Linked DNA regions of Homo sapiens: region 1 is linked to region 2. The links come from fine-mapping of genetic effects on gene expression. Tissue or cell type: whole blood. Region 2 holds a variant in brackets; the other region holds the start of a gene. All regions are shown on one strand. Distances are between the middles of the regions.

What was found. PIP is the estimated chance that this variant, and not a neighbour inherited with it, causes the effect.
Region 1: DCAF15 starts here. The variant in region 2 is fine-mapped to the expression of DCAF15 in whole blood (TOPMed, PIP above 0.99).

The regions. Positions count from the first base shown.
Region 1 is chr19:13,951,040-13,953,643 of GRCh38, reverse strand. It overlaps DCAF15 (DDB1 and CUL4 associated factor 15), which reads right to left and starts at 1,135. Exons shown (of 13, transcript NM_138353.4): 1 at 1,000-1,135. The coding sequence starts at 1,131. It also overlaps a transcript of PODNL1 not described here. RefSeq lists a silencer at 913-1,052 and an enhancer at 1,713-1,762.
Region 2 is chr19:13,884,804-13,887,557 of GRCh38, reverse strand. It overlaps BRME1 (break repair meiotic recombinase recruitment factor 1), which reads left to right. Exons shown (of 9, transcript NM_001345843.2): 7 at 1,503-1,597. Among named protein-coding and RNA genes, the nearest start is that of NANOS3, 9.0 kb to the right of the region's middle. The variant G/A (reference allele first, on the strand shown) is at 1,200.

The DNA of each region.
Region 1 (2,604 bases), 66 kb before region 2:
AATCTGATGGGAAGAGTCCTGTCTGGGAAGCTCCCTGTCTGATGGGAGACAGCCCTGTCCACATGGAGGTCTCAGTCTGACGGAGGAAACAGCCTGGCCAGCCAGGCCCAGGCCGACAGGGGAGACACAGTCCCTGCCCAAGGAGCTTCCAAGCTAAGGGCGGAACCACAGCCAAGCCCAGGGAGCTCCCAGGCTAAGGGCGGAGACTGTCCCAGCCCAGGGAGCTCCCAGTCAAAAGGGGGAGACACAGCACTGCCCTTACAAAGCTACCAGCCTCACGGAGAAGGCGCAGTCCCTGTCCACAGAGACACAGCCTTGCCCCAGTTACTGCCCACCTGCAAGAGATCCACATTTCTGCCCTCCAGAGCTCCCAAACTGATGGGGGAGAGAGACATCATCCCCCAGCTCTGGGAGTTTCCAGTCTGATGGAGGAGACAGAGCCTGCTTCGGTAACTCTCACTCTGCGGGGGAAGACTCAGCCCTATCCAGGGAGCTCCCACACTTTCAATGGGGAGGCCCACCCAGGTACTGGAACTCCCAGCTCATGTGTGGTCGGGGCTTGGGCAGGGAGAGGAACATCAGGCGGAGGAAGCCCAAAGCCAGCGGCAGGGGCTCTGCAAAGGGGGCGGGAAGGTTCCATTATGGAGCAACCATGGGAGCAGAGCTTTGAAAAGCCTGGATCGCCCCCTTCCTCCTGATTCTCCCTGCGGCCTCTGGGGTCGCCTCCCTCCGAGCCCCCTCCCTGGGGCCCCGCCCCCAACCCCCTCCATCCCAGCCCCTTTGCCGGTCACCCGACACAACCACCTGCATCCAGGCCCCCAACTGAGCCCCCTCCATCCAAGCCATCTCCCCCGGGCCCCGCCCAGGCCCTGCATCCGAGCCCCCTCCCCTGGGGCCCCGCCCCCAACCCCTCACCCCGCGAACGCCCTCCTCCCTCCGCCTCCCTCGTCCCTACTCCCCACCCTCCGGCGCGCTCCCCACTCCGGCTCCAGGCCTCACCTTGACCCGCTCCAGCTGCTTGAGGACGTGCTCCCGCCGCCGCCCTGCTGCCCGCTTCCCTCCGGCTCCCCCGGGGCCGCCGCCGCCGCTCCCAGCCCCGCTGTTCCGCTCCGATTTCGAGCTGGGCGCCATTTTCACCCCCTCCCTCCACTTCCGGAGCAACCGGCCCCTTCGCCCCACCCCTGCCGCCTCCTCATTGGTCCTTTTTCGGGACAGCGGCCCGCCGGTTGGGCGAAAGCCCGCACTCGCGCTATGCCTGTCCATCAAAGCCATCTCGACTCTTGATTGGTAGCGACAGTAACAGCCCCCGCGGCCCGTTGCCGTATTCCCGCCCCGCCTTAAGGACGTACCACTCGGAGGTCCCGTTTGTTCGCCCTGCCCAGATAACTTTGATCTGATAGGTGAATATCTCTGTCTGTCTCAACGGCGTCACGCCCCCTGTGGCTGGCGGGTTTCCATGGAGACCACAGGCGGTCCAGGCCCTTGGGCGGGGCGACGGGAGCCTGTGGTCCACCAAGGCTCGAGAATCCTCAGCCCCGGGCTGCCCGCGCCCGGTCCAGGTGGGCAAAGGCCTGACGAGCATACTTGGGCGGCAGAGCCAGGCCGAGGAAAGAGATTTACAAAAAAGGAAAAAACGATGGGATTCGATGAAAGCTTGTTTCCGATGGGCGGGTTGGTGGGATGATGGTGGTGATAATGATAGCATCAATCATGGATCGCTCCACATGTGACAGACACGGTTCTGAGCTTAAACAGTTCGATGTGGCAGGGCCCTGTTGTGCCAATTATGCAGATCATAGCAATAAAAATAATTGTTGAAGGTCCGCTCCGTGCATCATATTCGTATACATTACCTCATTTATTTTATTTTTTTAGACAGAGTCTCACTTTGTCACCCAGGCTGGAGTGCAGTGGCGTGATCACGGTTCACTGCAGCCTCGACCCCGGGCTCAGATGATCCTCTCACCTCAGCCTCTCATGTAGCTAGGACTACAGGCGTGCGCCACCACGCCTGCCTAATTTTTTGTATTTTTAGTAGAGACGAGGTTTCACTATGTTGGCCAGGCTGGTTGCGAACTCCTGACCTCAGGTGATCCGCCCGCCTAGGCCTCCCAAAGTGCTGGAATTACGGGCATAAGCCACCGCGCCCGGCCTAATTTTTTGTATTTTTTGTAGGGACGGAGTTTCACCAAGTTGTCCAGGCTGGTCTCCAACACCTGGGCTCAAGTGATCCTCCCACCTCTGCTTCCCAAAGTGTTGGGAGGACAGGTGTGAGCCCCCACCCCTGGCCAGCCCATTTAATCCTCTGAACAATCTAGAAGATAGTTTTTTTTTATTGTCTTCATTAAAAAAATTTTTTTTGTAGAGATGGGGTCTCACTATGTTGCCCAGGCTGCTCGAAAACTCCTGACCTCAAGGGATCATCCCGTCTTGGCCTCCCAAAGTGCTGGGATTACAGGCATAAACCACTGTGCCCAGCTGATTTCAAGGGTTTTAGGAGTTATGTACTAGAAAACCTAAGACCAAAATATGGTTTTTTAAAAATATATCACAACACAATATCACAACATATCTTTTTTTTTTTTTTTTTTTTTGAGATGGAGT
Region 2 (2,754 bases):
TGGGGCCAGGTGTGCCTAGGTGGCATCCAGCAGGTGAAGCCCCTAGCCCTCCTAAACGGGCTGCCAAACTGCAAGCTTGGAAAAAGACCCTGAAATCCAGACTTGGGGGGATCCAGACAGACAGCCAGGCTGGTCAAACCCGACCAGCATTAGCAGCCTTTCCCCAGCCAGGGGAGGAGGCACCGCCCTGACAGCACTGCCAGGGCCTGGGCGTGTTTGGCTTTGACACGAGGCGTTCCCCAGCAAGTTGAGGCGACCCAGGCAAGGAACACATTCCCGTGGGAAGGTTCCGGGTGGCTCCCGGCAGGAAGGCCGAGGCCCGTGTCTCCCAACATGGGCAGGGGCACGGGGAACAGCAAAGATGGATCGAGCGGGCCGTCTCAGCACCTCCTCCTGACCTCACTGTGGCCACACACTGTGCTAGAGGAGGGGACTCAGAGGTGACACAGCAGAGACAGAGCTTTCAAACCTCAAACCAAGGTCTCGTCATGGGAGGGTTTGGTGTTACTTTCTCATAGATCCTTTGCACTCACTCTTGGACTGATGGAGCTTCTGCAATCTGCATATGGAGTCATTTAATTTAAATTTTAGAGACAGGGCCTTGCTCTGTCGCCCAGGCTGGAGTGCAGTGGCACAATCACAGCTCACTGCAGCCTCAACCTCCCGGGCTCAAGCAGTTGATCCTCCTGCCTCAGCCTCCCAAGTAGCTAGGACCACAGGTGCGTGCCACCATGCCCAGCTAATTTTTTTTTTTTTTTTTTGTACAGACAGGGTCTCGCCGTGTTGCCCAGGCTGGTCTGGAACTCTTGGCCTCAAACAATCCTCCCACCTCAGCCTTCCAAAGTGCTGGGATTACAGGTGTCCCCAGCCTGGCTCATTGCCTCTTTTCTGAGGGACATCATAGGTCACCACTGTAACGGAGCTTAACATTTTCCATGGAAATTAAACCACCATTGACGCTTAGAAGCTTAAGCGCCGTGGAGTTACCAGGCTTTCCCCTGTATTCACTGGGAGTTTTCCCCTCGTGTTATATTTGCAAACTCCTTTCCTAACAGGATGTCTGTGGCACATTCAGCCAAGGTAGACGACTCCACTTCACCGCAGTTGCCCCCGCTTTGTGTTTTCTCTGTACCCGTAAAGACAGTGAGGGGCATGCAGGAGACTGCAGTGGTGTCAGGGCCAGAGATCATGGCACAGTG[G/A]TGCCCCCACTGCCCAGATCAGCCTGTGGGAGGCCCGGGCCTAGGAGCGGACACCAGGGTTGGCTGTGGCCTTTCTCTTTCCAAGGGGAAAGGACGGGCGCAGCCCAGGCTGGTAGCCTCGGGTCTACCCATCGTGGATTTCCTCCCCGTTACCGCTCTTCCTCTGCAGGAGTCCCAGCCAGCCCCGATGTGACCTGCTGTGGCCGCGGTGAAGCCAAAAGCATCAGCGTGACTTCTGGTTCCCCTGTGCAGAGCTTGCCCGACCCAGGCCTCGACCACTCACACCTTGTGCTCTCTTTCCAGCTCTTTCCTTCGGGGAACAAGCCGGGCCCTTGCTGGCCGGGCCCCAGCTCACATGCCAATGGAGACCCTGTTGCAGTGGCCAAGGCCCAGCCGAGGTAGGTGTGGCGTGGGTGAGAAGTGGCTCCAGGACCCTCACAAATTTTACCAAGGAGGGTGACAGATGGAGGAGACAGACCCCAGTTCTCCCTCCCTGGGCCTCGACTTCCTCAGTCCAGCAGGGGAGCTGAGCCCTGTCTTTCAAACTGTATACATTCCCCTGCTCCCCGAAAGCAGAGAATGGGCGACAGTGACCAGTGATCGACACCCAACCCAGCATCTCCCCACCCAGAAGCTCCCCAGGAGCCCTGGGACAGTGCCTCCGGCTCTGTGGGCTCTTTCTCTCTGGGAAGAGGGGCCAAAGCTTCCTCCTGAGTCCCTGGGAAGGGGAGGGGACCCAGACAGGGCTCAGAACTGTTGGCTGAGACCATCTTGGAGCTGTTCCTAGCTCTGGCACCAGGCGGGCACCCGAGTGAGTCTAACCTGCCCTCACCTCCTCCCCTCCCCACTTGGCTCTTGCCCTAGGCGAACCACCTCCTCCCTCCCACAGGCCACCAGTGAGCCGTCCTCCAGCCTGCTGTGTGTGAGGAGGGCACCCTCTCCCCCGCACCATGCCCGGGGTCTCCGCAGCCTGTCCCCTCCTCCCGTGCCCTCCCACAGCCCTCCTCGAAGCCAGCGCTGGGTGGCTGCCCTCTCTGTTACCTGGCACTTGAACCTGCCTCTCTGCAGAGGCGGCAGCTTATCAATTATTTATGGCCAAGTTTCTGTTTCTGTCTGGCAGGGGTGGAGGAGGGTTTGGGACTCAGCCCTTGGCTGTGTGTGGCCCCCACACCCTCCTCCTCCTTCTCCTCCCCTAGCAGAGGGCGGCTCTGTCCCTGCCTCCTGCCGTCACTCCCTGTGACTTGTACCTGCTGTGCCACTGGCCACCTCCCTTAGCCACACACACAACCTGCACGTGGACCAGAGGCAGTTCATCAGAGCGGCCCGCTGTGGTTTGAGTGAAGAGCCGGGAGGGTTCACATCTGAATCTCCGACAGCGTCCCAGGGCCAATGCAGCTCCCCTCCCCACCGTCCTGGATGTCTGGAAGCTCCCAGAGGGCCCCGGGTCTGGTTTGGTGGCTTGAGGCTGAATGACACACACAAGAGGCTAAGACCCAGGGGCTGCCAGACACCTCAGGGTGACCAAGGCAGGAGCAGCAGGACAGCAGTTTCCATA